Linked DNA regions of Homo sapiens: region 1 is linked to region 2. Evidence: fine-mapped expression QTL. A gene starts in region 2. The other region holds a variant in brackets. All regions are shown on one strand. Distances are between the middles of the regions.

Region 1 (15,437 bases), 38 kb before region 2:
TCAACATCTTGCATTTGTATAGTACACTTGTTACAGTTGATGAGCCAGTATTCATAACTTATTATTAACTAAAGCTTACAGTTTGTATTAGGGTTCACTCTTTGTTTTGTACATTCTGTGGAATTTGACACATGTAAAATTACATGTATCCAGCATTAAAGCATCATACAAAATAGTTTCACTGCCCTAAAGTTCTCCTGTGTTCTACCTATTCATCTCTCTTCTCCTCCCTCTCTCTCCCAAAACCCTGGCAACCACTGATCATTTTACTGTCTCCAAAGTTTGGCCTTGTTCAGAATATCATATAAGTGGATTCACACAGTATGTAGCTTTTTTCTGATTAGCTTTTTCCACATAACAATATGCATTTAAGTTTCCCCATGTCTTTTCATAGCTTGATATCTTGTTTCTTTTTATCACTGAATAATATTCAACTATGTGAATGTACCATAGTTTATCTACACACCTTTATAAAGATATCTGAGTTGCTTCCAAGTTTTGCCAATTATGAGTGTATTAGGCCATTCTTGCATTGCTATAGAGAAATACCTGAGACTGGGTAATTTATAAAGAAAAGAGGATTTATTGGCTCACAGTTCCTTAGGCTTTACAGCAAGCATGGTGCCAGCATCTGTTTAGCTTCTAGTGAAGCCTCAGGGAACTTTCAATCATGTAGCAGGAGAGAGAGAGAGAGAGAGTAGAGGGGAAGGTCTCAAACACTTTTAAATGACCAGGTGCTGTGGGAACTCACTCACTATTATAAAGATACCACCAAGCCATAGGGAATCCGCCCCCATGACCCAAACACCTCCCACCGGCCACCACCATTAGCATTACAATTCAACAGAGATTTGGATAGGGACAAGCATCCAACTATAGTAATGAATAAAGCTGCTATAAACACTCATATGCAGGTTTTTGTGTGGACATAAGTTTACAACCCAATTGGGTAAATAGCTGTGAGTGTGATTGATGGATTACTCTTACATATGGTAAGAGTAAGGTTAGCTTTGGGAGAAACCGCCAAACTGTCTACCAAAGTGGCTGTGCTATTTTTCAGACCCGCCAACAATGAATGAGAGTGGCTATTACTTCACATCCTCATCCAGCATTTTATGTTTAGGATTTTAGCCATTCTAAAGTGATATGTAGTGGTATCTCATCGTTATTTTAATTTGCAATTACCTAATGAGCTATGATGTTGAGCATCTTTTTATATGCTTATTTCCCATCTGTACATCTTCTTTGGTGAGATGTCTGTCCAGACCATGTGTACTTTTAAAATCAACAAAATAATAAAACCATAGTCATGAACCACCTACAAAAAAAGACTATGCTCTGAAAAGTACATTCTCTTTTATAAAAGGGCTCACAGGACAGTTTGCAGGAAAATACTCCAATCAAAGGAAATAGTACAGAAACAAAAGCAAGCCTGTGTGTTCTCACACTAAGGAGTTGAATTTTGCTTAAGAATAGGATGCAAAGGTAATATAAGTAGGAGATGGTGCTTGAAAAGAGGGACAAGGGAAAATCCAAGACACTGAAAAAGTGTGAAGAGTTTATCTTACAGGTAACCAGGAGCCACTAAAGAATTTTGCACAAAGAAAACAATAGAATCATATTTGCGTGTTAAGACTATTCTGATAGCAATGTATCAGATGCATTAAGGGAAGGCAAAGCTAGTTGTACAGAAACTAATAAGGAGTCTATTGAAATAACTTAAATGAGGCCATCAAACGAGAACTCAAGAAGGGACAGAAAGGATGAAGGAGAGGCGGGGTCATTTTTAAGAAGTGTTAAGGAAATAAAATGAACAGGCCATGTTGACTCATTCTAGATGAGGATAGGGTAGAGGAAGAAATACAGAACAACTTCCAGTTTCTGACTTGGGCAATTAATTTAATGACAATGTCCTTTTCTAATATAGTGTGTTTAAAATAGAAGAACATCAGGAAAAGAGAATTAGTTGAGTCTTAAACATGTTGCATTTGGAACATTCAAACAAAGCTATCTAGTAATTTATAAGATATAGCATTCTGGGGCCCAGAAAAAGAAGTTTGAGCTAAAGATAAGATTTGGGGCCATTAGCTCATTGATAGGATTTACTATGTGTTGAGAAAAAGGGGACCTAAGATGAAACCCTGAAAAATACCAACCAGTATTTATGGATAAGGCAGAGTAAGCAGCTTAAGTAGGAAAATAAACATCAGGGAGAGTGATATGTAAGCCAATAAAGAAGAAAGTTTTAAGTGGAGGAAATAATCAGTGTGGCTCTGTAAAACACGCTTCTAGTGAATTTAGTAACTAGAAGGTTGCTGAAAGCCTCAGCAGGGGAATTTACAATAGACTGAGGTGTGAAATGCATTCATTGCTGAATCCCCACCTAGCATAATTATTGGCCCCTTCCTACATGTTCCGTAAATATCTATTGGATTATTGCATGATAAATCTTTTTCTAGGTCACGTCACAGAAAATGAGCAGAGGAAGTGCTGTTCTTTCTCCTCAATGTGATTCTTAGTGATTCTCATTCTCCGATCTGTGAGGTTGCGTGGAAGACTAACAGTCTACTAATTACAATCACACTCACTCAGCTATACCCTCTGTGTTCCATGATTCTACTCAGTTCGTCTTGCCAGGGTTTTTAAACAAAGTTCTTTTATTTAGCAAATAGTATACACTTTAAAATACTTTAAAAATTTTTAATTGTGTTGAAAATCACAAACATAAAATTTACCATCTTAACCATTTGTACGTGCACCGCTGATTGGCATTAAGTTTATTCCTATTATTGTACAATAGATATCCAGAACGTTTTCATCTTGCAAAACTCAAACTCTATACCCATTGAGCAGCAGCTCATTTGACCCTTCACCCAGCCCCTGGCAACCACCATTCTACTTTATGTTTCTATGAGTTTGATACCTCATTTAAGTGGGTTTATACAGTGTTTGTCTTTTTGTGACTAGCTTATTTCATTTAGCATAATGTCCTCAAGATTCATCCATGTTGTAGCCTATAAAATGAACCTACCTGTTTTTAAAACATGGTTTCAGTGTTTTTCTCAAAAAGTTCTAATAATCCAACAACACATATAAATCATATAATTTCCAGGTAAGTAGGAGTTGTGAGGGCTTACCCATCTATTTTGCAAGTTTCCTTAACATGGCAGAAATCATTCTTCTCATTAGAAATTATTTTGTGGTAAGGAACCCACTAACTTTGAGAGTGGATAGCCCATTTTGCAATAAGACCCATCATCAGATGCTACCACAGCTCTACTCTCTGAACTGTTCTGGGGATGCATTGATTGAGATCCTAGCATTTGACAGAAACAAAGCAAATATATAACGTCTGTTTAGAGCCCTTATTTTCCTCAAAATCTTCTGATGTTCTCCAGGTCACCTTTGTCTTTCTGGCAACTAGCTATTTTATTCCTTGTATCATTTAACCATGGTTACTTATTAATCATCCCCCATGAGATGCCTGAAGTAACAATGTTTTGCAAATAGGTTCAGCTCTCTGGTTTTAGGGAATGAAGAGAGGGAGAACTGTAAAAGGGGAGTGTTAGACTTCATCCCCAAAGGCCAGGAACAATGTCAAAAAACTCTGGTATCTCTGCAGTTGATAGTTCCCTCTCACTTGACTAGATTTTAAAATAATTAAGTTCTCAATTTCCAACTTAGTACAATTGCAATCTCCAACAGCATTTCAGAAATAGGAAACCTGAAGCATATCTCTGCACACTTTTATTTGTAGTTTAGTAAACAGAAAGTCTGCAAATGAGAAAGAATAATGCCTAACTTCTTAAATAAGCAGAAGATGGGAATAATCCAGTCATTGTGCTTATACCTGCACTTCTCAGTTCTGCCGCAAGTATTCCAGTAAAAACTGGGTTGATCTGAGCTGAAGTGTTTCTTCCTTTTGGCCAGGTGCAAAAGTCTGGAGTCTACTTCAGAGGACGAATGTGTTTAGTCATTTTTATAAGAGTTGAAAAAAATAAGCACTAAATCTTTCTTTCAAACTTGAACTGATCCTCAAAACAGTTTTAGGAATTTCCAAAGGATCTTTTTGCTTTAGTTTCCAAACTGGTATTTTCACTTGTTTCCATCTTGTTTGCTAGATAACCTGAGTCTTAAATTTAAAAGAAAAATGCTTTGAGGATGATTTTATCAGCTCTCCATATGGAATATGAGAAAAAAAATCCATAATTATTCTGTATCCAGTTTACCTAAAATATTTTTCTAAGTTTTTGGTAGGCAGGTATTCTCCTTTCCACCGTAGAACTCAAGCAGTACAGACTATACCATGGCCTATTGCTAAGATTTACTGAGATCTCCACTTTTGGAAACCCCACAAGTGTAAATTGAGATTAATAAAAATTCCTTGGTATGAAAAATGCTAACAGTTGAATTTCACTCTCCCATCTACTCAGATATTACTTTATACTCCTGGATACCCCTCATAACTGCTCCTGATGCCCAGGCATCCAGGGTTAGGTGAGGAAGCATGACCTGGGTTTTCAACAAACTGCATGAGGCCACTCTGGCCACGAGCAGACTCTCTATCCTCAGGCCCCCAGTAATTTTGAGTTACTTCCTCTCAGCCATCTGACTTATATGTGAGGCACAACTGCACAAAAATAGCAATTCTTGACGCTTTTATAAACACATCTACAGAGAATGTTCCCATTATTGCCTTAATATAGCAATCTGAGATAATCAGGTCTGGAAACATAGCCACGTTTTATAGGTAAGGAAACCAAGCATAAGTGATCTAAAAACTAACAGGAGAGTGAAATTGAAACCAGAACCTTGGTTTTCTGACTGCCCGTTATGGATTCCCCCTCTGGTTTTCTAGGAAAGCCCTATAGTGAAGGCCATATTGCTCTCAATATTTCTTCTTCTTTTCAGTTGCCTTTCTTTATGCCCCTCATCCCTGTCTGTCTTTTCCTCATCCAATCTCCTTGTGACTCTCTGAAAGTCCCTGCCCTGTGACAGTCAGTTCAGACCTACCCTTTCTAGCCATTTTCTGATGCTCTCTGAGCTGCAGATTTTCCTGAGCTTCAGACACCTCTCGTTCTCTCAATGCCTTGCTAGACTGCTGCAAGTTCAATTTATAAGGAGCTGATGGGAGATAATAGTTTACTGCAGTGGTTCTCAATCAGGGCAGTTTTTCTCCCTGGGGGACATTTGGCAGTGTCTGGAGACATTTTATGCTACTGGCACATATTGGGTGGAAGCCAGAGATGCTGGCTGCCATCCTGCAATGCACAGGACAGCCCCCCAAATACTAAGTAGAAATACTTCGTGCCTAATGTCGATAGTGCCTCCAATGTCAAGGTTGAGAAACCTTGGCTTAGAACAATAATCCATCCTACAATGTTTATTACCAGCATTTCCCGAAAGGAGTAACCAATGCCAAGACTTTCTATCATCATGGTGGTTGAAGAAGATAGTAGGTTTCAAACTGGCATGTACGAAAGTGTGGGGTGGGCCCATTAGTCAGGTCACAGAGACAATAGCCTACTTTGAGTGTGTTAACTGATCATTCTTGACACAGTAAAGTCACGTAAACTGCTTTGTGGCAATATAACTAAGACTTGCTGTGAGAGGAAGGCAGAAAAGAGAACGTGAGCACAGAGTTCTTCTCAGAATCACTGAAGGTTTGGTATGAGTATGCCCCACAATGGGACTCCTGCTTCGAGACGTGAGCTCGGAGCAAATGTGTCCCAAGCAATAACATAAGATCATTATGTGTGGAAAACAGACTTAAGAATAAAATACACTAAATATTTTTGATGTAGTATCCCATGGTGGGTAACACATGTCAGAGATGTGAGTGCAAATGTGAGACGCCTGATCTGCTCTATCTAGTTCAATTGGAGTCGTGGACCTTCTAATTCCATTCCTTCTGTCAAAAACATTTTTACATTCATTCTGGGATGTGTGTCATGTAAATTTTTAACCAGTAGAGCAAATTTTCATTTTATCTCAAGGACAAAGAACAATTTGCTCTCAGCTACAAACTTCCTTCCTTCCATCTGTAACATCATCAATTCTGTTCTTGGTTCCTCCTCTTCAATCATGTGGGACCCACTCAAAGAACAAAGAAGTCCTTTGACCCTTTGTCCTCCCAACCACTTCCATGTTCATGACATATATTTGTGATATTTTGAGTGAGTTATAATCACTTAATTCTAACATGTTTTTTGAAAGAACATTTTCCTTAGACTTCTTACTTTCCAACTCCAATTCTCTCAACCTAAAGAAATCCTTTCTGTCCCACTTAGCTGAATCCAAGCACCCCTCTTCATTTACTTTCTGGTCCCTTGTTTTTCACTGGACACTTTTCTACACTCCACTTGGGCACTTTCCAGCTGCTGAGGCACTATATTTTTATCTTTTCTCTCTTACTGCTTTTTTATGTTAACAAGAACATTACGTGTACTTACATCACTTCTTTTCCTTCCTTTTAGTACTGCAGGACCAGAACTATATGAAGTTCTGAGGACATAATAGCAGTTACAATCTTGTTCATCTACTGAGATAAATGGGCCTGAGCTCTCCTAGCATTTCTTCTTTCCATAATCAATTGTGATTTTTTCCATAATCAATTGTGGTAAAGCTCTCTCTTTCTGTCTCTCTGTCTCTCTGTCTCTCGCTCTCTCTCTCTCTCTCTCTCTGTGTGTGTGTGTGTGTGTGTGTGTGTGTGTGTGTGTCTGTGTGTGTCTGTGTTTATGACTATCAGAGGAAGAGAGACAGCTGGAAATTATTTTCAAGTATTTAAAGGTGATAGAAGTTCTTTTTCTTAGATAACATGCTATCCGGACCAGTAGTTATATATGAAACATATAACTAGTGTAGTATATAAAACATAAAACAATTTCCCCTTGGTCTTTCATTCAAAGTCCAAA[A/G]CTTAAAGATCACGCTGAGAAAAGAGGGGTTCGGTGCTATATTAGCTGTAACTTAGTCTTGGGGTCTCTTCCAATGGTTGGCCTTGTTTTCCTTTGGCAAGGAAAAATTTATTGTTATGCTTGGAAAATATTTTGCTGTTAGCAGAAGAATAGTCGATATTTCAAAGAAAGATAAAGGGAGTAGAGAGAACTATGTGACAGGACATTTTTCTTGATTGTTTTCAAAATGGAAGGTTGAGGGAGGGGTATTCAAGAAAAATAAAGTACAATTTTGACCTCCACAAAGCAGAAGCTACATCTATTTTACCTTCCCACAGATCCCAGTAAAATATTCTAGACCTGGTGAGTGTGAAATAAGTATTGTGACCTGTTTTGTCCTGAAAGTCTAATTAACATAATCAAATAAGAACTTCATGTGAAAGTATGCAAGTTGCCTTTGTAATAAATTACTATTTAGAGATTAGATGAGTCTACCTAGTAGAAATGTACACAGTGGCTTTAAACCTTTCAGAGTACTGCCCCTAGTGAACATTTGTTAAAAAGACAGCATGGCCTGAGCACTCTAAAGCACAAGCCAATGTCAGGGCCAGAGCCTGTGGGCTAGGCTAGTGGTGATGGTGGTGTTCTTCATGTGTGGCCAAGAACAGGAGAGGCAAGAGATCTACCAAGGAGCCTATAACAGAAGACCAGAGACCTGAACTACAGAAACCAAAACTGGGTGTGGAATAACTATTTAGCAGAAGTTTCTCTGATGCTGTACTAGATTTTTGTGGACTTAGCCAGGCCCAGACCTAAGCTATGGCAAATTCCAATGATGACCCAGGTCCTCTAGTTTGGAAGCCAGGGACTAAGATAAGTGACTGAGAGGCACTGAGCAAGAAGCTGACCTAACATCTGGTGGTAAAAAACCAACCAACCAACCTGACGGTCAGATCCTACCCAGCTGGGTTGGATGGCTACTTAGAAATTTTCTACCTTCCACACATCATCTTATTCTTCTAAGTAGCAATTTCTCATTTCCTTTGAACTTTTATGATTATCCTGCCTACAAATCAAAATTGTTGTGGGAAAAGAGAGGGCCAGAGTGTGGGATCTGTGCCATGTGAGGGCAAAGCTAGGCCTGGTCCAGGAACTGGCAGGCTCAACACCACACTTTGCCACAGCTAGGATGAAGGTCTGCTGAATCACAGCTTACAGGGGATGAGGAGTCTGGGGGGTTTGCCACCTCAGTGAATACTGACATCTTGTTTCAGCATCCAAAGGTAGTCCACCATCCGCCACCTTGAATTCAGAGTATGGGATCAAATTTCTTCAAAAATATGTAAAGATAGAAATGTATTTTAGATGCCATCTCTTTTTGCAGCCCTCTTACTCTTTTTTTGCAGCTGTATTATTATCGTTATTAATGTAGATGTTTTTTGAATATCGACTGTGTCTTTCTTTAATCCTAAAAATAACCTTTGATGTAGATTTAATTACCCTGAAACTGCTGCTGAGAGAGCATGAGTAACAATCCTATGATTAGTAAACTAGTACATGGCAGCACTATTAGATGAGTCTACCTAGTAGACTCATTATTATTTAAGTATATATTGAACTTAGTTTTGTCTGACGCTATAGACCCAAGTCTTTTCCCGATGCTCAATTTGCTTTCTGTTCTTCTTTTTGGCAGTTTTTTTTTCAAGACATGCTTAATACTGTCTGCTCTTTAGGAAGATGATTAGTGAAGTTGATGAATTCACCTGACCAATGGTAATACTCCATCTTGTATCAAGTAAAATGGGCATCTGTCAGCATGGCTTTTTAGAGATAGAGTCAGACCTAAGGAAGTCACTGGACTTTTCCAATCAGCTATAAAGTAAGGCTAAAACTATGGCAAAATAGAAGATGTAGTAATTCTAGCCACATGGAACCATACAACTTCTCTTAAAATAAACCAACATTTGTTCAAATGATCAAGCTTTCCCTCCTGCCTTCTCTTATTAACACATTGTACTGGGCTGAAGAGTATCTCCCCAAATTCCTGTTCTCCAGGAACCTCTGAATGTGATCTTTTTTGGCAGCTGGGTCTTTGCAGAGGTAATTAGTTAAGATGAGGTTTTGCTGGATTAAAATGGGCCCTAAATCCAATGACTAGTGTTTTTATAAGAGAAGGGAGAGGGAGATGCAGACACAGAGACATACGGGAGTTAGAGGGGAGAAAGCCCTGTGATGACAGAGACAAAGATTGGAGTGATGCAGTTACAAGCTAAGAAATGCAAACAATTGCCAAGAGCCACTAGAAGCTGAAATAGGCAAGGAAGTATTCTTCCCCTAGAGCCATCAGAGGAGCACAGCCCTGCTGACACCTTGACTTTGGACTTCCACCTTCCTGGACTGTGAGAGAATAAATATATTTCTGTTGTCGAAACCACCCAGTTTTGGGTACTTCGTTATGGCATTTCTAGGAAACTAACACACCCATTATTCCTGGTGCATTTATGTAGTTATCTCCTCAAACACTCTAACAGACATATAATTTAAGAAAATAAGACAGAAAATAGTGAACTTTCAGTGGCTGCTAAAGGCATAGGAGAAGGCATTTCAAGCGGTTAGAGGACAAAAGTAGTAATCCAGGGACTGAGGGAAAAACAGACAAGGTGAAGAGAAAAGGTCACAAGTATTGAAGAGACCATCCACTTTTGTCTAAGGGCTCAGGTAATAAGCCTCGCTGATTTCCTAAAAAGCATTTGGAAAATTAACATACTTGGAGGAGTTTTTAAAAATTAGCTTAATATTTCTCTTAAATTACATGTTAGATATTTTATATAAATAAAACCAATTTTCATAATAAAAACTTTAATGAACTTTGATTCTGATATATTAATACAAAACATACACTTTAGATAAATGAATGAATTTTTAAAAATAAACTTCAAAAAGTGATATTCATATGAAAGCCTTCCTAAAGTCAACAATAAATGTACATTTATATCAGCTCCAGTCAGAAAATTATTTTAAAATGGTATTTGTACAAACAATTCTTTGCTTAAAGTTTCATAAAACTCTTAGTGAATACTTTCAAGGCTCTTTAAAAAAAACAAAGTTTGACTTGAAGTTGATTACTTTCTCAGAACAAGCAAGTAGGAGTCTTACATGAAGTGCTGAAATCACTCCTAGTCCCATTCATTATTAAGGAAAAAACAAAAAAATACTTCACAATTTAATAAACAGAGCCTTGTGCTGGGAGTCAGGAGACTTCAACTGAATTATAGCCGAGGCTGACTTTGATTTACTCTACGACTTTAAGTCAAATAGTTCGCCTCCCACTGTCTCGATTTTCAACTTATTTATAGCATGTAACATTTGCCAAGTTATATAATATTGCTCACCTCAATTTCTTCATCTATTAAATGAAAATAATGATGACATCGTCTTGCAGAGTTACTATGAGGGTTAGGTGAGTTAGTATAGCCAACGCATTGAGAGTAACGCCTGGTATAGAGTAGCTAGTATTGGTACTTGCAGTATTACATATCTTCTCTCACCTTCTAAATCTTGTGCCTCTTAAGGGCAGGGATCACATCTTATTTATCTTGGTATCTCTCAAAATACGTAGTAAAGTATCTTGTATACAGTAGCTGCTCAATAAATATTTACAGACCCAAATTTGCTCTTAAAGGACAAAGGCTGTATATTATCTAGTTGTTTGGGATAACGGTCATTACATTTTTTTAAAAAACCCAGTGATGTGGGAAAATAAGAGAAAAGATCTTTTGGGAAAATATCAGTGAGCAAACCATTCCCATGAGAAAGTTTCCATCGGGTTGGAAACAACTTTTAAAAATCTTCCATAGTAGAAGCAGAGACTTGGTCTCCCCGGGCACTAGTCTCTGCCTTCTTAGAACAGCCTGGAATATAACTACTGTTTAGAAGAGCTGAGCCTCTCCTGTGATCCCATTCTCTTCCTTCTTTTTTCGCCTTCCCAGCTCTATACCTCACCCCAACCTCTTTCCCATTCCACTGGAGCCCTCTTTGTCCCAGGAGAGCTAATAGTAAATTCTTTATTGCTGTAGCTTTATTGCCTTTAGCTCTGGAAACTGTGTGCTTCCAGGCTGTAATTACGTTCCATTTATAAATATTATCTCTAAGAGAATAGCTAATAGCTTTTTTGTAACGCTATCTGTAATTCTGTTGCTGCTAAATTAATGTGTCAGCCAGAATCTTGAAGTAAACAAAGTTTATAAATTGATTCCTGTAGAATGATGTAAGATCTTACTAAACCCTAATACTGCTCAGATGAGAACAGCTCAGTTAATCAGCTAATAAGCCAGCAGTGAAATTAAAAATATAATTGAACATTCAGAGCAGTCTCCAAGAACCATGACAAATTAAAAATAAAACCCAACATGCGAATATCAGTTGCTTTGTGAAAAAGTCAGGTTACCCAGCCTCCAGAGGTTCATGTAGTTAGGTTCAAGCTAGCTTTTCCCATAAAACAGTTCAGATAGAAACAGTCTTTAACCTGCACATCAAAGTTTCAGGAAATGAAATGAAGAACATAAAGCATAGTTAGCTCTTTGACTTCCACATAGAGTCAGTAGACAAAAATGTTTCTTGAAAAGAGGGGAATGTCCACTCTGATGTCTTAGTTGTAATGACAGTGTCATGATGAGGATAGGATGGTGGCTGGATTCTATCTTCATACAAAGGAGTTCTGACAAAATTATGTGGAATCGCCTTCCCAAAACGAACAAGCACAGTAGCAAATATTAGCAAATATCTGCATAGTTTAACTGAAGAGATTCACTTTTTCTCAAGAGGCAGGTAGTCTTAGGTAATGATAAACTGTACGAGCTCTGAGGACAGAACTTCTTGGGTTTATATTAAAAAAAAAACTATTTCATTTGGACAATTTGTGCCAGTTTTTTTATTTATAAAATGGATGGAAGTTATAAAGATTAAGCAAGTTAATACAATTAAAGTGACTAAAACAGGACGTAGGACATCATAAGAGATCAATAAATATTTGCTATTATTATGTTACTACACTTATTATTTAGAATTATTTTATTTAGAATAATTATTAGGATTGTTTAGTTTTGAATTCTTACATCATTTAGAATTATGAGTCAGCTCTCCTCTAATTTTTGCTACCTTCTTTTATTCTTTTTCCCTTTGGTCAGGGGTTAAAGGGTTCACAGACTTTTTCTTTTTATTTTTACTTCAACTTTAATTTTAAGTTCAGGGGTACCTGTGCAGGCTGTACAGGTTTGTTACATAGGTGAATGTGTGCCCTGGTGGTTTGCTGCATAGATCAACCCATCACCTAGGTTTTAAGCGCAGAATCCATTAGCTATTATTCCTGATGCTCTTCCTCCTCCCATGCCCCAACAGGCCCCAGTGTGTCTTGTTCCCCCTGATGCATCCATATGTTCTCATCATTCAGCTCCCACTTATAAGTGAGAACATGCAGTGGTTGGTTTTCTGTTCTTGCATGAGTTTCCTGAGGATAATGGCTTCCAAGTCCATCCATGTCCCTGCAAAAGACATGATTTCATTCCTTTTTACGGCTGCACAGTATTCTACGGTGTATATCCACACCATTTTCTTTATCCAGTCTATCACTGATAAGCATTTAGGCTGATTCCGTGTCTTTGCTATTGTGAATAGTGCTGTTCTTGCTACCTTTATATCTAGCTCAGGAATTGCCAAGCTGTGGTCACTGACACTATTGTCTTGAAGAGATATTCTGACAACCTTGTCTCTATGACCCCAGAAAGACAATTCCATTAGTCCTATGTGGGAAATATTTTTTTTTAACTGAGGACCAAGCAAACATAAAGATGATTAAAATCTGAAAAGACAGATAATGCATAACATTCTGAAGTGACTTGCTACTACTTCTGAAGAAACTGAGGTCCCTGGGGATTCTTTGTAGTCCCTGGGGCCCCTCTATTCCTGGAGGCACAAGGAACACAGGCAGTGTGCCCCCTCCTCTGAGCCGTGACTTCCCTTTTCATCTGTGGAGATTCCTATTTCTCAAGGCTGGCTTCAAAGTGGATTGCAGTTCTCCCCAGCCTTTTCCTCTTTATGCTATCTCCCCACACTAACTAACAATTTTTCATTCAACAATTTTACTATTAATCACTGTAGAAGAAAAGATTGGTGCTAAAGAATAAAACTGGGAAGTTACAGAGTTCCCAAAGTTGTAGTGGAAATGTGAGATTTTGAAGCCAAATGCTTTTCTCTGATGGAACAAAGACCCCAGCATCCTCCAGTTTCTCTCTGACAGTCTTAAAGGTAAAATTTAATAAATATCATATATTACTAAACCTCCTCCAAATCCATTTCTTTTTGAAGATCTCTCAAAATAGGGATAAGAGTATAATTAAGGTAGATTAATTAGGCACTCAAGTGAGTGCCTTGCATGTCAGAGGAATTCCAAACACATATAATCCCTCATTTTGAGCTATTAATGTCTCCCATGTTCTTCTACTTCTGTACATGAAAGCCACTTGATGAAGCCCATTTATTTGAGGACTCAATTCCTACCCTTAGTCAAGCAGGTCTCAAATTGTAGTGTACACAACAACCACCTGGAAGGCTTATGAAAACACAGAGTCCTAGTTCCTAGTGTCAGAGTTTCTGATTCAGTAGGTCTTGGATAGGGCTCAAGAATTTGCATTCTCACCCAGCTTCCAGGTGATTCTGATTCTGCTGGCAGCACACTAAAGAAAACCATTGACTTATGGTCCTTCTGTCCTGGTCCTCCCTTTTGGTCAAATGGTGACAGCCTTTCTGCAAAATGAACCCAGTATGAAACACATGTAAATAAAGAGAGAAGGAGGGACACACAAAGAGAGACCAAAACAAGGTTGTTTGGCTCTGGGATACATTAGGATCTGAAGCCGGCTCTATATTCCATCTTGCAAAGTTACAACTATACATTTTGCTAAGCTAGTGTGAGTTGGGTTTATGCCATTTGCAACAAAATAAGACAGCCAATAAAATCCCAGTAAAATGTAAAATTATAAAAGTATCCACTCAAGAGCATTTCTCTTTGCTCCTATACATCATCAGAGAAGTTATTTCTCTACCTCAGTTTATCACCTTAATCAACAACAAATATCCATTACCAACTTGACAACCACCATTTGCTTGTTTAGAGAGATTTGTTGGTAGTTGAAGCAGACAGAAATTCCTCCAGGTAGTTGTAGGCACAGAAGGCAAAGTTGAGCATATGTTTGGCAAGCCCAGAATCATGCATCCATTTCCTTAACAAATATTTGTTAAACACCAACGTGCTACTCACTGTGCCAAGTGCTGGAATGAAACAGTGAAAAGCCCCTGTCTAGTTGGAGTGACAGAAATAAGCACTTACAAAAGAGTTAGATCAGATATGTGAGGTCATCAAGATGGTACCACCGGCCCTGGAGTGAACAAACAGGGGACACCAGGGCACCAGGCATGTGCTCTGCAAGCCATCACTCTGAGACAAGTTTTGAGTGATGGTGAGAAAACAGTGGATGTGAGGGGCAGACAGATGTTAGTGTTTAGGGGACAGGCTTTGGGCCTTGAATAGACTTTGATTGGAGGCACGGCTCTACTACCCGTTAGTCTACTTAATTACATTGAACAGTTAACTCCCTAAGCTTCAATTTCTCTTATTTATAAATTAGACTCTTTATGTTAGCTATTTTAGGTAACACTGTGATAAGAATTGCACATTGTTCACAAACATATAAATATTCTATCCATGTTTGCCAAATAAAGTACCCCCAAATTACATAATTTTAGAAATACAGTAAAGAAAGCCCTGTCTTCCACTGGAAAGCTACATACAGAGGAAATGTGAAACCTAAAGTTTCAAAGACTGAAGTGACATGAAAATTAAATAAAGGAGGAACTTTTGAATGATCAATAGCTTCAGAGCTGAACCTCTAAAGGACTTCTTTAAGAATCAATACTGATACCATAACATTGATCCAAAAAGATAAGAAACGGCATCCTATCTTTTTATGAAAATGGAAAAGTCATATAAATTTAAAAGAAGCTGTGAGAACCGTGGGAGATTAGACACAGTAAAAGACACAAATCGTATTTGTCCCTCATTAATGTAAAGCAGGGGAATTGCCCTGCAGGTTTCCATGTGAGAATATGTTATGCTTTATGGTGGAAGGAGGGTAAAAAAGTCAAAACAACCAGACTTTACCCCTAGATTTAACTAAGGACTAGCTCGACCACATTCTAGTTGTGGGGCATTTAATTATGAGCTCAAGACTGGTGATCAGTGCTCTTATTATAATACCTACTCCACAAGTGTGTGAAGAATCAAGTGCCTAGCATCCTGTCTTGCGCCTCGGAGGCACTCAATAGACAGGAGTTTAAGTCATTGCTGAGAGGAAGATAAATGAACTTATGACTTCTCTGCAGGTCAAGCAACTCACTATACCGATGGCTTCAACCTTCCCACTGCATCATTTCTTCATGTTTTGCAGATCATGAGAAAATGCTGTCATTAGCCAAGTCAGATTGTCTTCT
Region 2 (15,437 bases):
GTGTGTTGGATGAGTTGAAAATATGTCCACACAAAAGCCTGCACATAAATATTTAGGGGCATTTTATTCATTATTGGCAAAACTTGGAAGAAACCAAGGTATCTTTCAATAGGATAAAAAACTGTGTATATCCCTACAATGGAGTATCATTCCGTGATTTTAAAAAATGAGCTATCAAGCCACATAAAAACATGGAGAAACCTTAAATGAATATGGTTAAATGAAAGAAGCTAGTCCAGAAAAGCTGTATACTGTATGAGTCTAACTATATGACATTCTGGAAAAGGCAAAACTATAGAGACAGTAAGAACATTAGTGGATGTCTGGGGTTTAGAGAGAGAGAGAAGGATGACCGGGTGGAGCATAGGGCAGCGAAACTATTCTGTATGATACTATATGTACTGCAATATGTACTATAATGGTGGGTACATGGTATTTATCAAAACCCTTAGAACTTTACAACACAAGGGATAAAAACTCTAATTCAAGCTATGGAGTTTAATTAACATACTGCATCGACATTGGCTCATCAAATATAATCACACTAATACAAGATGTTAATAATAGAGGAAACTGTGTAAAAGGGGAGAGAGATGGTAGAGAGGACATATAGGAACTCTACTTTCTGCTGAACTTTTCTGTAAGTCTTAAACTCCTCTAAGAAATAAAGTCTATTAATTTAAAAAATATGCAGTGATTGCATTCATTGTATGATACATAAAAATCTGGTAACCAATTTTTAAAATTATATTGCAGGCATTCAGTATGTAAGATCCTCCTCTGGGTGCTAGAGGATGTGTAAAAAGAGGAAATTGGTAAGGAAGTGGTTTGCCAGGTAGAGTGGAGAGATCTCCAGACCTCACCCTTATTTCCAATAGTTCACTTGGTAGCCTCAGACAAAAGACTGCCAATTCCTGTATGTCTCAGATTTCTCCCTTGAAAAATGAAGTTTGGGGAGATGAATTATGAAAATCTTTCTACCATAAAAGTCTATAATTTATCATTGTATGCCCTCAAAGGTTGTTTGACAAAACAAGAAGGTTTATGAAATTTTGGGCCTACCCTGATTTCTTTTAGGGCTTTTGTATCTGGGCACACATGTACTTATTTCGAGGGTAAATTAAATCCCCACATTTCTATGTCTTCACAGATCTTCTGCCTTGGGTATTTCTCATAACTTTCAACTGCCCCTTGAGGCCTGAAGTATATAAAAAGGCAGAACTCCAAGTGCGAAGTTCTCACTTAAATCAGTGGATGGCTTACCTGTTCCTAGCCCCTCCATTCCTGGAATGTCATCTCCAAATCTATGGAAAAGAATAAAGGAGAAATTAGCTGAGATTAGAGCAAAAGAATTTTGGAGTCACTCACATGGAGAGTTTCTTGATTCAAGGGGGAAGAAGGAGAGGTTTAAGTGTTTGTATGTGAGAAACTCCTTTAGTTTGCCCTGAACTGGAGCAAAGAAAATGTCACTCAGGCAGGTTTTGGTGTATCCCACTGGAGAGATATTTCTCTCCTGTAGGAACTTAACCTAAAACAATTAAGAGTCAGAAAGAACCATCAGTGGGACAACTTAGTCAAGTTTCACTTTTTATAATAAAAATTGAAATGAGAAAGCAATACAAAAGGCATTAAAAATGATGAATTCATCCATTTGTTTACTTATTCAAAATCATTAACTAAGCATCTATTATATACCAGGCATTTTATTAAGCACAGAGAGTTAAGAAGAAAACAGACAAATTTTCTGAGTGGTCTTAGCCTCGGAGAATAGATACAAATAAATAAATATAAGATATAATGTAAGTTATGATAGCTGAATGTACAAAATGCAAACATGAAAGTAATGATAGTTTGTTAAAGAGAGTCAGGAGTAGCTTCAAAAAGAAATTAGCATATGATCTGTGTGTTGAAAAATCAATAGGATTTTGCCAAGGAGAGGAAGAGGAAAATAAAGAACTGAGGATACAAAATTGGAAGACATAAATATAAGCTATATTTTCTGGAAATGGTCAGTGGTTCAGTGTTACAGATTAACGTAGAGGTTGTCTCAGTAAAGAGGAGTGGTCATCAAAAGCCTGCAAGGCAAAGTCAAAGTTTATTGTAAAAAGCCTCTATTTGCCATGTTAAATTCGGCCACAGACCTGGAAGTTGAGAAGGAAAGAATTCCAGGGATAAAGACACAATTCATCAAAGATGGAGTTACAGAGGAAAAGAGAGGATGGAGTGGAAATTTTTGTAAGTCTGTTTAATATTGTGAGCACCAATTTCCCAAAACAAAAGCAGTCTTGTGGGAAAAAGAAAGTAATAGAAAGTTTTTCTTTTCATTTTGGTCTTACCCTTTCACACCTTTCTTTGGAGGTTTACTCTTGAATTGGCGAGTCTGCCTCTGCTTGAACTTGGGAGGGCCTTTGCGTGGGGTGGTAGGACCCTGGTTTGAAGCTGGAGCAGGCAGAGTAGTGTTGTCACTCATTTTAACTCCCCCCGGGCGGCTGATGTTTCCCTTTCAGCCTCCTTAGACAGTGAAAGATAAAAAAAAGAAGATCTTTCAAGTCATGGGGACCATTGGTTATTAGATCTTTATTTCAGGCTGGAGAAGAAAAGTACTTCAACAAGAAAGCTCAGTATTTTGTGTTGACACAAAAGGGGAGAAGTTATCATCTTTAAAAGGGATCTTTAAGAAAACAGAGTATAAATCAATGCAGGCACTTAATGGAATGGAATGGAAACTTACCTTCTGCTACATTACTTACACAATCTATCAGTTGTGTAAACGGACAATTGATAGATTTTAAAACTCAGAAATCTAGGTAGCTATGCTGTTCCCATGGATCTGCCACTGAAAACAATTTTTAAATAAATAAATTAAATTAAAGCTTCACATTAGGTATAACAAATTAAAATTTAAAAATAAATAAATAAAATAGATTTGCCACAAGCATTCTACGTGAATTTATTATGATGCTGTACTTCTCTGTGACTACCAGTTCTGTCAGTTACGAAGAGAGGAAAATGGACTCAGTGATATCTATAGTCTTTTACAGCATCTGCAATTTCTTTAAGCTTTACATATTCTTCCATCCAGCTGTAAAATAACCTGACTCTAAATGTTTATTGAGCATTTTTTATGGCCTCTGTTTTTTTATAGTCCTTCATGTCCTTATAGTTTAAGATAGGATTATTTTGTTTAATCCTCACATGAACCAGAAACTTCTCTCTTAGTTCTGGGAGATGACAGTGTAGTTGTCTGGACAGGAGGACCTCTGAAGCAGGAATACCAACACCCATGAATATATTCAACACATCTTAATACACACGCACATACAGAAGTTAATGAAGGATAATTAAGTAATACGTTTGTGCTTCAACTCTACGTCGAGACATAAGGTTCTTCAGCCCCCACTTTTCACAAATCTTCAATGCCTTCTTCTATCCACACCACGGACCTATCCAATATGGTGTTCTCAGACTTTAATTTGGCTACAGAAATGCACATTGCCATTCTTCAAATACAAATCAAAGAAAATTATTGAAAAAGATAAATTTAAGCAATTAATGTGTCATTTTGGATGACGTTATTTTCTTTCTTCCTTTCTTTCGTAAGAGTTAACAAAACTTGCTCTTGGAAGGAAGATCCTGAAAAGCCCCAGAGAACTCCAAATTGCTTTTGCCTCTTACCCTGAGACAGTCTCCTCTATAAAAACTAGTGTGTGGGGGCTTTGTCTCCATAAGATTCCTTATTTCACCCATTGCAGATTTATGCTAATATTCTTTTTTCTTTTTTTTTAAGAGAGACAAGTTCTTGCTCCATCAGCCAGGCTGTAGTGCAGTGGTGCAATTGCAATCATAGCTCACTACAGCCTCAAACTCCTGGGCTCAAGTGACCCTCCCGCCTCAGCCTCCCGAAGTGCTAGGTTTACAGGCATGACCCATCACACCAGCCTATGCTAATACTGTTAACTGCAAACCTCCCTGACAGTCTTTGGCTCGTGCTAACAATGACTCTCTTTACTGGCCACACTGCATATTCCTGAAACCTCATATTCTATAACTTCCAGTCCATACTGTTTTCTTATTTCCTTGACAATTGGGTTGCAATTATTATCCTCGCCTCCAAGATTTTTCTCTTATTTAAATTCTGATTATTACTAAATTATTACCCTTGCCAGTACCAGGGATGGTGAGATTGGCCAGGACCCTGGACCACCTGCTCATGCTGTGATTCCTTCCTTTATCCCCTACTGGACTAGCTTCATGAGGCTGTCCTTCCAGTCTCAGAACCTACAACAGTGCATGGTGTACAGTAATCATGCCATATATATTATATTTGTCAAATGAGTTAATAAATTAATTTAGAAATTGAACAGGCCAGGCACGGTGGCTCACGCCTGTAATCCCAGCACTTTGGGAGGCCGAGGCGGGCGGATCACGAGGTCAGGAGATCAAGACCATCCTGGCTAACACGGTGAAACCCCATCTCTACTAAAAATACAAAAGATTAGCCAGGTGTGGTGGCGGGCACCTGTAGTCCCAGCTACTTGGGAGGCTGAGGCAGGAGAATGGTGTGAACCCAGGAGGTGGAGTTTGCAGTGAGCTGAGATTGTGCCACTGCACTCCAGCCTGGGCGACAGGGCAAGACCCCGTCTCCAAAAAAAAAAAACAAAAAAAAAAAACAAAAGAAATTGAACAAATACTGTAAACCTTGGTCATGAGATCCTGACCCTTTGACTTCTCCATCAGAGCACAGAGAAGTCATTAGCTTTCAGGCTTTAGGAAATGCACTGCCAGTTCCTCTGCTCACTAAATTCAGTTCCCGTTCTGTGGGCCCTCTCTACCCCCGGTAGACAGGCAAACCTTGTGTCTGTCCCAAGTGTGGTTGGGACCCTGGGAATAGCTGGTGAGCAGCCAAGATCTGCGCTGTGCTCAGAGTGGACCACCAGTAACTGACACATCCCAGCCCTGCCAGAGTCACAGAGGGCAGCTAGAGAATTGCTCTCAGATCAAGGTTTTTGAACTGCCCAGGATTTTCAAGGTAGAAGAAATCAAAAAGTTTCTTTTCTCTCATCTAAAGAATCTATTAGGGTTAGAATTGCCAGATTAAGCCAAAAAAAAAAAAATTACAAGACACCCAGTTCAATTTGAATTACAAAGAAATAATTTTTTTTAGTAAAGTATATCTCAGCTGTTTCATGGTACATATTTATACTTTAAAAAGTCATTTTTTTTCTGGAATTCAAATTGAACTGGCATCCTTCATTTTTATCTGGCAGCCCTAATAAGATCCAATTGAGTTGGATCCAGAGTTCTATAATGTAAGGGCCTAAAGTGACCCTCATTTGTCAAATTGTCCTTTGATGGTAACACGGTAGAGAGTACACTCTTTAGAATCAAACTGATATAGTTTTAAGTTCCTACTCCACAGAACTGGCTACGTGACTTAGGATAAATTTCATAATCCTCTGTGGGTCTTATTCCATCTATAAAATGAATCAAACAAGACCTTCCTTTTAGAGTTATGGGGAAATTTTAGGAAGACAATATAAGTAGAGTGGTACAAAGTGTTCAAAAAGGGCAAATATATGCTAGACCTTCTGAGAGAAAAGAAAGCCATGCAAACAAATCTGTGGTTATGACACTTGTTCACCTGGACTCTGCACCTCCTTCCTCTGGGCCAACTGCTGAAGGGCCCTTGCCATACACCAGAGGGGCAATTATCATCTGCCCTCGCTGGGTAATTCTCTGCTTCCTTCAAACACCCCGACTGTTAACTTATTTCTGGTCTTAAAATTCTGTCTTAAGAAGCTTTCCTTGAATTCCTTTGACACCCCAACAGCAACCCCGAAGAATTTAAAAATCACACGTGACATCCATATTCCCCAATGATACATCCCCTTTTTTCTTGCAAGTTTCTTTTGCATTTTTACATAATTTTGAAGTTACACCTCTAGGCTTAGAAAGTGTTCATGTCTGAGTATGATGCATTATATGAAAGAAGCCTCCTCAGAAAGAGTTACATAACAGTTGCCAGGTTAATCCCTTGATCCTAATGGTGCTCAGGATTTGCACTAGGTAACCGGAACAGTCGACTAATCCCTATGCAGTTTCTGTCATAGATTTACCCTCCAATTCTCTCTGCAAAACCTTTAGGAAGGGTAGAACACCTCTGACCTTTTCCTGCATTGGAAGCCAGTCCTGTTGTCCATAAACATCACCAAAGGCTAACCTCATGCTGACCACACCTTTCTAGAAATTCTAAGGGCATCTGGAGCTGAGTAACCTTAAATGTATTATCAGACTTGATTTTAGCTGAAAGAAGTTTCATATTTTTTCCTCCAAAAGCATTAGGCAATTTATTCTTTTGTGAGCCAGAACATTTTCCTGTATTTAAAGCAATGTTAGCCCTTCCCCTTTTGAAGATTACAAACTGTTTTTCTGCAGAAATAAGTGGATGCAGCAAAGTAATATTTCAAGGCATACTTTTTTAGGGGACTGGGATTAGGGTCAACTTAACAAAGTTAAAGATTTGTATAAAGCAAAAAATCATCTTCTGTTTCTTTATACAGCAAAGCCCAGCTCTATATAGTGACAGAGGATGATCCTCTGAAAAGCAGTTTTAGGAGGTTCCTGAGACAGCTCTCTGATGCTGCTGTTATCACCTTACACTTCCAGTTCTCTTTTTCTCAGCAAAGCTATAGACAGGTAGACCAGTCCATTGTTGGTGGACAAAGAAAGAGGCAGGAAGGAGCTGGGAAGGGAAGTACTGCTGGGGTTGAGCCCATAAATATCACCCAGGGTCCTGCTGAGGCAGAGAAAATCAATAATTTGAAAAGCAAAGCAAGACCCAAACCAAAGCCATAAAAAAAAAATTACCAAAATTCCAGCCAGCACCCTGCTTCAGAATGGAACAAACACTTGACCTCAAAGGGAGAAGGCTCAGCCACCTGCCCTGCCCTGTGGTCATTCTCATGCTCTCAGCTCCCCTTCTCCTTTTCCTCACACTCACACCATCCTGGGCCAAGTTTGCAGGCACATCCTGGGAGTAAAGAACTGTTTTCTCTGTGGTTATTTAGTGCCACAGATTCCTCCTTCTTCAGAAAACTGTTTACTATGAAGCTGCAAACAGGGAGGTCACTATTGGGCTCCTTCTAAATGAATTCAGTAATCAAGTTTTGCAGTGACCTTGTAATAATCAAGTTTCACTTATTTGCTTGTCCCATGGCATAACAAGAAGGTCTGCATGTATCTCCTTCATGTTCTTTCCCATTTTCATCCCCAGCCACAGCCCAGGCCCACAGGTCCAACATGTTTTCTTCTGCAATTTTTCTTTTGGAACCTGATCAACCCCCCAAAGCCCTTCAATTATCCTGCTCAAATTCACCAGAAGTTCAGAAGTACTCACGGAGCTGAATGTTGTTCCTATCAGCTGCCCAGCTGCCTTCTTTGCAAAAGACAAAAGGATCTTTGCATCCTGACTTATCTCTCTGTAATACCCTCATGCTGCCTAATCTCACCGTCATAAGCTCAGAACAGCAACCCAGGTGCAAAGAAGTTAGGAGAACATGGGTTGATGCTGGGACAGGCTTAGGAGTTTTCCAATAATTAGAGGCCCTTTCAAAACTGACTTGGGTTCATTCCAGTCAATAAATAGGTATTGTATTCACAAAAACACAAAAAGTGTTGATATCCAAGGGTAAATTTCAGTTTGTGATTCAATATCTTCTGTCTTTTTTTTATTCTTACCTTTAGATTTCAATACCCCCATTTCTTCCCTTTCTCTGACAAACACACACCTATGTGCGCAATCACACACACACATATACACAGTGACATAATTCTTATGGGGCTCTAGATAACTGGAGAGAAGAGAGGGAGCCACAGTGCCTCCTGCTATACAGGGACATTGAACATGCGGGCAGTGACATTGGGAAACACACAGTATGTCTCCCTAACTGGTATTGTGCGAATTTCCTCAGAGAGATGGAACCTCAGAGTCAAAACTGATATCTGACACAGAAAGGGCCCAAATGACAGCTAGGAATTGTTAACTGAGGACACTTATTTGAGAATCGATTGCTGGATCTTCCGTACCTAAATGTTTCAGGGTGTAGGGTCTAGGGTACAATCCAATTTACTGAGACTCCTTGACTCAGTCTTCCTATTTTATTGATCCACTAGTATTAATTATTAATAGATTAATACTTTTTGTATTTTAAATAGATCTCAACCCATATGGTAGTTATCAGTAAGCTCTTTTGATAAATTTATCATAGAAAGATTAAGTGACCTATTCAAGACTGCAAATAAAATTAATAGTGGAGCCAGGAACAGGGCCCAAATCTGGAAGTACCTTGCATATTCAATTGTCTTTGTGCTGCACTACATCAAAGCAGACAGAGACCAAGATGTCTGTTTGCTGGTCACTTCCATGCCTTGCCAGTGAATTTCAATGTTCTTTCCCCAGTTGTTACCTATTAGAAAATTACACTCCATAACATTACAGAGAAAGAAGGTCAATTTATCCTTTCTAGACAGGGAGAGGTTCTTAACCTGCAGCCCTAAGCAGATTACATGAGCAACTAGACAGCTTGAGAGTCATTCATATGCTCTCCACTGGTCTTTACCAAAATTCCTCTGAGTTTTGAAAGCAATGATTACCTTGCAAAGCCAGGAAAGTGTTTGGTCTCTGGATGAGTCCCTCTGCTCCCTCCTCTGTATCTCCATTACCATTCACATCTTCCTTTACTATTACATACCAGGCACGTTAATGTTCAGATGCTTATCTGTCAAACTTTTACATATTCTCCATTTTCTTGATGAAAGAATACAAATTTTAAGGACAGTGGAAAGTGCCAAAAGCTGAGTGAATGTTCTAGAATGTTGTTACTCAAAGTGCAGCAGCAGCAACACCATCTGTGCACTTGTTAAAAATGCAGGATTTCAGCCCTGCTCCATACTTACCGAATCAGAATCTGCTTTTTAACAAGGTCCAAGGTGATGTGTTTGCATATTAATGTTTGAAAAGTACTGTTCTAGACCCATATGCAAGCTTGGGTTTACCACTTATCTGCTATATGTCACCTCTCTGAGTCTCAGTTTCCTCATATGTAAAATGAATGATTTAGAGTGTTGGGGTTCTCAATTTTTTTCCATCCCAGTACACTTGAGAAAGATAATCTTGCAATTCTCAGATTCTCAATTTTTGAATATGGGGGTGGTTGTGCCATAAGTCTTCTTCCTCCAAAGGAAATCCAGGAGAGAGAAGAGGGAGAGATTAGGAGTGTGGAGAAAGTCTAGGTGTATAGTTTGAAAAATTCTCCTAAAGCCACTCTAATATGGTTCTCAGGGGTTTAGAATTAGAAAATTCTTAAATTACTCTACAGTCTTAAAAATCTATGTTCCTTCTTGTTTTGGACCAAGTAAAGTAGACACATTTCCTCTCATGCCTCTTGCTAAGTACAGCTAAAAATCCTGGATACTATATATGACAGAAATATGGAATATTTCAAAATATTTGAGAGAAGAAAAACCAAAGACAGGCTTTAGATGCGAGGAACAATATGGCAGGAAGTTTCCTGAATTTTCTTTTTGTATATCCGGATGTTGATGCAGGAAAAGACAGTAACCCAAAAACACCAAGAGGAGTGAAAAAACAAAAAACCTCCCCAAAAGCCTGTTTTTTCTAGACAAGTGACCAAGAGAGTAGCAAACTAGCAAGAACAAAAACATTTAAACAAAAACCGCCCTACTCCAGTCAAATACCATGGAAAAAAAACATGACATGACTCAGCAAAGTCTGAGTGGAGAGCCAAGACTTTCATCTTGATTCAGCTACAACGGGGTGACCTTCTTTCTCCCACCCTAGCTGAGTAGCATCAGAGAAAGCCACATTGGGATCTTGGACTTTCACCTCCAACCAGTCATAACGAGGCCACCTTCTTCTCCCTACCAGAGCGGTATCAAAGAAGCCCAAGTGGGAAATTTCATCTCCATTCAGAAATAACACAGCATGTAAAAAAGCATGAAATAAAGATTTTAGAACTGAAAAATAGAATAACCAACATAAAAAACTTAATGGATAGGCTCAAAAACAGAATGGAGAATAAAGAAGAAAGAATCAGTGAACTTGAAGACAGAAAAATAGAAATTACCCAATCTGAACAAAAGACAGAAAATAAACCCACCCCCCCACAAAAAAAATGAATAGAACCTTACAGATCTGTGAGACTAAAGGACCTAATATTTATGTCATCAGCATCTCAGAAGGAAAGGAGAAAAGAGATGAAGCTTAAAAAGTACTTGAAGAAATAATGGCTAAAAATGTTCCAAATGTAGTGCAGGACGTAATTGTGTAACATCAAGAAGGTGGGAAAACCCAGTGGGATAAACTCAAAGAAATCTACACCAAAATACACCATGGCTAAACTTCAGAAAACTAAAGACAAAGAAAAAAAGTAGAAAGCAGTGAAAGAGAAGCAACACCTTATCTGTAAGAAAAATAACTCAACTGACAGCAGATTTCCCATTAGAAACCAGGGGGACTAGAAGGATATGGCACATTTTTCATGTCCTGAGAAAAAGAACTGTCAACCCTCACTTCTATGTCATGTGAATTTATCCTTCTTCGGAATAAGGGGAAATAATGACATCCTCAAACAAAGGAAGACTAAGAGAATCTATAATCAGAAGACCTACTCTAAAAAGATGGCTAAGGAAACTTTTTGAAACAAAAAATAAATGATAAAAGAAAGAATTTTAGTCTATCTGAAAAGAAAAATGGAAGATAAGAAACTCAACCACCTTCAGCAAGGCTTGGTGGAGAACGAAACATCGTTCAAGGCACTATGAGGTTCTAAGGGTCTGGTCATCATCTTGGATCAAGGATTCACCCACTGTTCCCTGTTTGAAGTGGCTGCTCTTCCTGTCTCTGCTACTCTGACTCCTACTGACTCTCAGGGGATTGGTGTAGGCTGGGCAAGCAACAATCAATACACATCACCTCTGTTGGATGGAGTAGTTTTACCAGATCCCTTCATAGTTCATTGCCTAGTCTAGTGATGGCTGATTTCTGGTCAGTTTGTCTCTCATCTTATCAACCAGGTAATCGGGCTATATGGCTATAAGCAAAATGACCAATCTCAAAGGAATTCCTCCAAAATAACTTTGGCGTATTGAACACTCTAAGCTTTCACAGAAACAAGAAATAAAGCTAATGGGAACCTCGCTATTGATACATTCAATAACATAAATAAATCACAGAAACATTTTGCTAAATGAAAAAATCCACAGTCAAAAGGCAGTGTACTGTTTGACTTCATTTTTGACATTCTGGCAAGGCAAAACTGTAGGATTGGAGAATAGATCACTGGGTGCTTGGGACCGTGATTGAGTGGAGAAGTTGACTCCAAAGAGAAAATCCAAGAAATTTTAGGAGCGGTGATGGAATTATTTGGAATCCTGATCATAGTGGTAGATATACAACTCGATGCATTTGTCAAAACCCATATGTCCATCACAAGGAGTAAGCTCTACTGTATGCAAATTTTATGACTAAATATAATAAAATTATTTTCTTAAATCTGTATTCCATAGCTCTATAACTTCTGGTTCTTGATCCCTTCTGACAGATGGAAAAGTGTTATTAATTATATATTGGAAAGTAGAGTGCAGGTACTAAGTAATTAGAAAGTAATTAAAAATTTAGCTGTCCTTTAGCTGCTTATGCAAGCGCTAATCTCTAATCTTTCTTTAGTGCTTCTTAAAATACCAGTGAGTGGGAAGACACATTAAAGTCACATTTCCTCCACATTTGGAATCTCCTAGACTGAACTTTCCACTCTGACTAATGCATAGTGGACTCCAGAGGGGAACACACTAAACGTGAAAAAGGAATGTACAAGCCTGGCCCCTCTTTCCCTAAATACCCTACGTTTGATTCTCCAGAACAACATTAATCTTGGAAAAAAACTTATGAATTAAAAACACAATATTCTTTTCCAGAAAACAGATAAGAGGAAACACTTCCCAACTCATTTCGTGAGGCCTATTTTATCCTGACACCAAAACCACACAAAGAAATTTAAAAAGGAAATTACAGACCAGTATCTCTCATAAATTTAGATGCAAAAATTCTTAACAAAATATTATCAAATTAAATACAGCAATGTATAAAAAGAATAATACACTACAGTCAAGTGGGATTTATTCCAGCTTGCAAGGCTTATTAAATATTCAAAAATTAATCAACATAATCCATTATATTAACAAGCTAAAAAAGAAAATCATATGATCACATCAATTGATGAAAATATGATTAACAAAATCCAAAACCCATTAATGATAAAAACTCTCAGCAAACTAGGAATAGAACTAGGAATTCTACTAGAATAGGATTCTCATAAAGAAGCTATGAAAACCTACACATCAGTGAAACAGAGTAGAAAACTCAGATATAGACCTACACAAATATGCCCAATTAATTTTTGACCAAAGAGACAAAAGCAATTCAATGGGAGAGGGATGGTCTGTTCAACAAGTGGTGCTGGAAAGCATGGACACTTTGTCTATGGGTATCCATAAACCAAGAGGAGAAGGAGAAAGAGAAGGAGGAGAAGGAAGAGGAGAGAAAGAATCTTAAACCTCACATATTATGCACCCCAAAAACCTCACACCTAGTACGGAAATTAACTCAAATGAATCACAGACTAAAATATAACATGTAAAACTATGAAACTTTAATTTAAAAATATGAGAGAAAATCTCCAGGCCCTTGGACTAAGTGAAAAGTTCTTACACTTGCCAGTGAAAACACAATCCATAACAGTAAAAATGGATAAATTTGACCTCATTAAAATTAAAAATATTTGCTCTGTGAGAAACTCTGATGGGGGAATTGAAAGACAAATTACAAATTGGAAGATGGTATTTGAAAATCCTATACCCAACAAGGGATTTGTACCTCAAAAATGTAAAGAACTCTCAAAACTTGAGATTAAAAAGGCAACCAATTCAATTAGAAAATGAACAAGAAATACGTGTAAACATTTCACTGACGAGGATATGTAGATTACAAGCACACAAAAATATATTCACCATAATCATCCATTAGGGAAATGCAAATTAAAACCACAATGAGAAATCACCACACACCTATGATAATGATTAAAAAAAAACATAGTGTAACACTAAATGATTGCACAGATATAGGAGAAGCTGGATCACTTGTGCATTGTGAGTGGGAGTGTAAAATGGAACAGCCACTGTGGAAAACCATTTGGCCAGTTTTCCTAAAAATAAACATGGATTTACCATGCAACCTAGCAATTGCACTTTTGGGTGTTCATCCAGTGAAGTGAAAACTTGTGTCCACAAGTGTTTATAGCAGCTTTATTCATACTAGCCCCAAACTGGAAACTATCCAAATTTCCTATAATGAGTGAATAGTTACACAAACTGTGGTACTTTTATACCATGAAAATACTGCTCAGCCGTAAAAGGAAATGAAGTTATTGATACCTACAACAACTGGTATGAACCTCAAGGAAATTATGCTAAAGGAAAAAAGCCAATTACAAATGTACGTATGATTCCGTTTACATAATATTCTTTTTAAAATTTTTTATTTTAAGTTCAGGGGTACGTGTGCAGGTTTGTTACATAGGTAGACGGGGGTTTGTTGTACACATTATTTCATCACCCAGGTATAAAGCCTAATATCCATGAGTAATTTTTCCTGATCTTCTCCCTCTTCCCACCCTCCATTCTCCAATAGGCCTCAGTGCGTGTTGTTTCCCTCTGTGCATCCATGTGTTCTCATCACTGAGCTCCCACTTATAAGTGAGAATATACAGTATTTGGTTTTCTGTTTCTGCATTAGTTTGCTAAGGATAAGGGCCTCCAGCTCCATCTATGTCCCTGCAAAGGACATGATCTCCTTTTTTAAGGCTTTTTTATGTTCTTTGTTATGGCTTCATAGTATTCCATGGTGTATATGTACCACATTTTGTTTATCTAGTCTATCATCCATTTATTTAATATTTTTAAAATTAAAAAATTTATAGAGAGGGTGAACAATTTAGTGGTCACCAGGTGTTAGGGATGGGTGTGAGGAGGTGGGTGTGGCTACAGAAGGGTAGAACAAGTAAGCCTCACAGAGATGGCAGAGTTCTGTAACTTCATTGTGGTGGTAGTTAGAAGAAGCTTCACATGCAATAAAATTGCATAGAATTACACACACACACACAGACACACACACACACACACACACACGAGTGCATATGTAACTGGAGAAATAGGAGCAGGCTCTGTGAATTGTATCAATGTCAGTTTCCTGGGTTGATATTATACATATTTATGCAAGATGGTGACATTGGCGGAGAGAGAGTGAACATTTCAATTTTCTGTAAACCTATAAGTATTTCAAAGTGTAAATTTAAATAAATTTGTTATTCAAAAATTCATAAGAAGGATGCATAGCAACTTCAACATAGTGGCAATCAGATAAATATTTCTTCAAAGCTGCAATATAGGTGACTTGACTCAGCAGGCAGAGCTGTTTCCCCTTTTCCTATACTCCCCTCTCAAGCCATTCCTCCTTTTCTTCCTTTGTAGGCATCTCTCACTTCATCTTTTCTAAATACTGAGGTTTCCTAGTATGTGGGCCTTTCTCATTAATTCTGCTGGTATTTATTGACAGTATACTATGTTTTCAGTCAGTGCTCTAGTCTCTGGGATACAGCAGTGAATAAGACAAGGTCCCTGACCTTATAGAGCTCACAGTCTTGTGGAGACGTGGATAACAAACAGAAAAAATAATACATGGGAAATATGTCAAGGGATGTTACATGCTAGAAATAAAGCAAAATGATGAAATAGAGGCACTATTTTAAATATAATGGTTAAAAAAGACCTCTCTGAGAAATTGACATATGAGCAGAGATCTGAATAAAGAAAGAAATGAATCAGGTATGATTATTTAAAGGAAGAACATTTCTGCAAAGAGAATGATCCCTAAAATGGGAACCTGTTTCTCATTAAAAGATTAGCAAGAGGGGCATGATCTGGAATGGAGGAAACAAGGGCTAAGCGTTACCAGATGAGTCTGGAGGATCTAGCAAGTGGCTAGATCATGAGTATGTTAGAATTATAGTGCTACATGACAAATTACCCCAAAATTTAGTAGCCCATAACAATAGATATTTCTTATCTCCCACAGTTTCTATGGGTCAATCAGGAGCGGCATAGCTGGGTGGTTCCTGCTCACATCTTCCATGAGGTTACAGTCATGCTGTCAGCCAGAGCTGTCATCATCTGGAGCTGAAACCTTCATTTCCAGGATGGTCCACTCAGACAGCTTTTGGTCCTCACCACATGGACCACTCCACAGGGGGCTTGAGTGTCCTTATGACATGGTGCCCTGCTTCCCACAGAATGAATGATCTAAG

What was found. PIP is the estimated chance that this variant, and not a neighbour inherited with it, causes the effect.
Region 1: its variant is the best candidate, but not a certain one, in a credible set for the expression of PDE6H in whole blood (INTERVAL, PIP 0.73).

What each region holds. Positions count from the first base shown.
Region 1 is chr12:15,003,357-15,018,793 of GRCh38, reverse strand. It overlaps LINC01489 (long intergenic non-protein coding RNA 1489), which reads right to left. Exons shown (of 4, transcript NR_120466.1): 3 at 13,588-13,694; 4 at 12,111-12,433. Among named protein-coding and RNA genes, the nearest start is that of LINC01489, 9.2 kb to the right of the region's middle. The variant A/G (reference allele first, on the strand shown) is at 6,915.
Region 2 is chr12:14,965,046-14,980,482 of GRCh38, reverse strand. PDE6H (phosphodiesterase 6H) reads right to left here and starts at 7,441. Exons shown (of 4, transcript NM_006205.3): 1 at 7,397-7,441; 2 at 2,337-2,511; 3 at 1,264-1,304. The coding sequence starts at 2,470.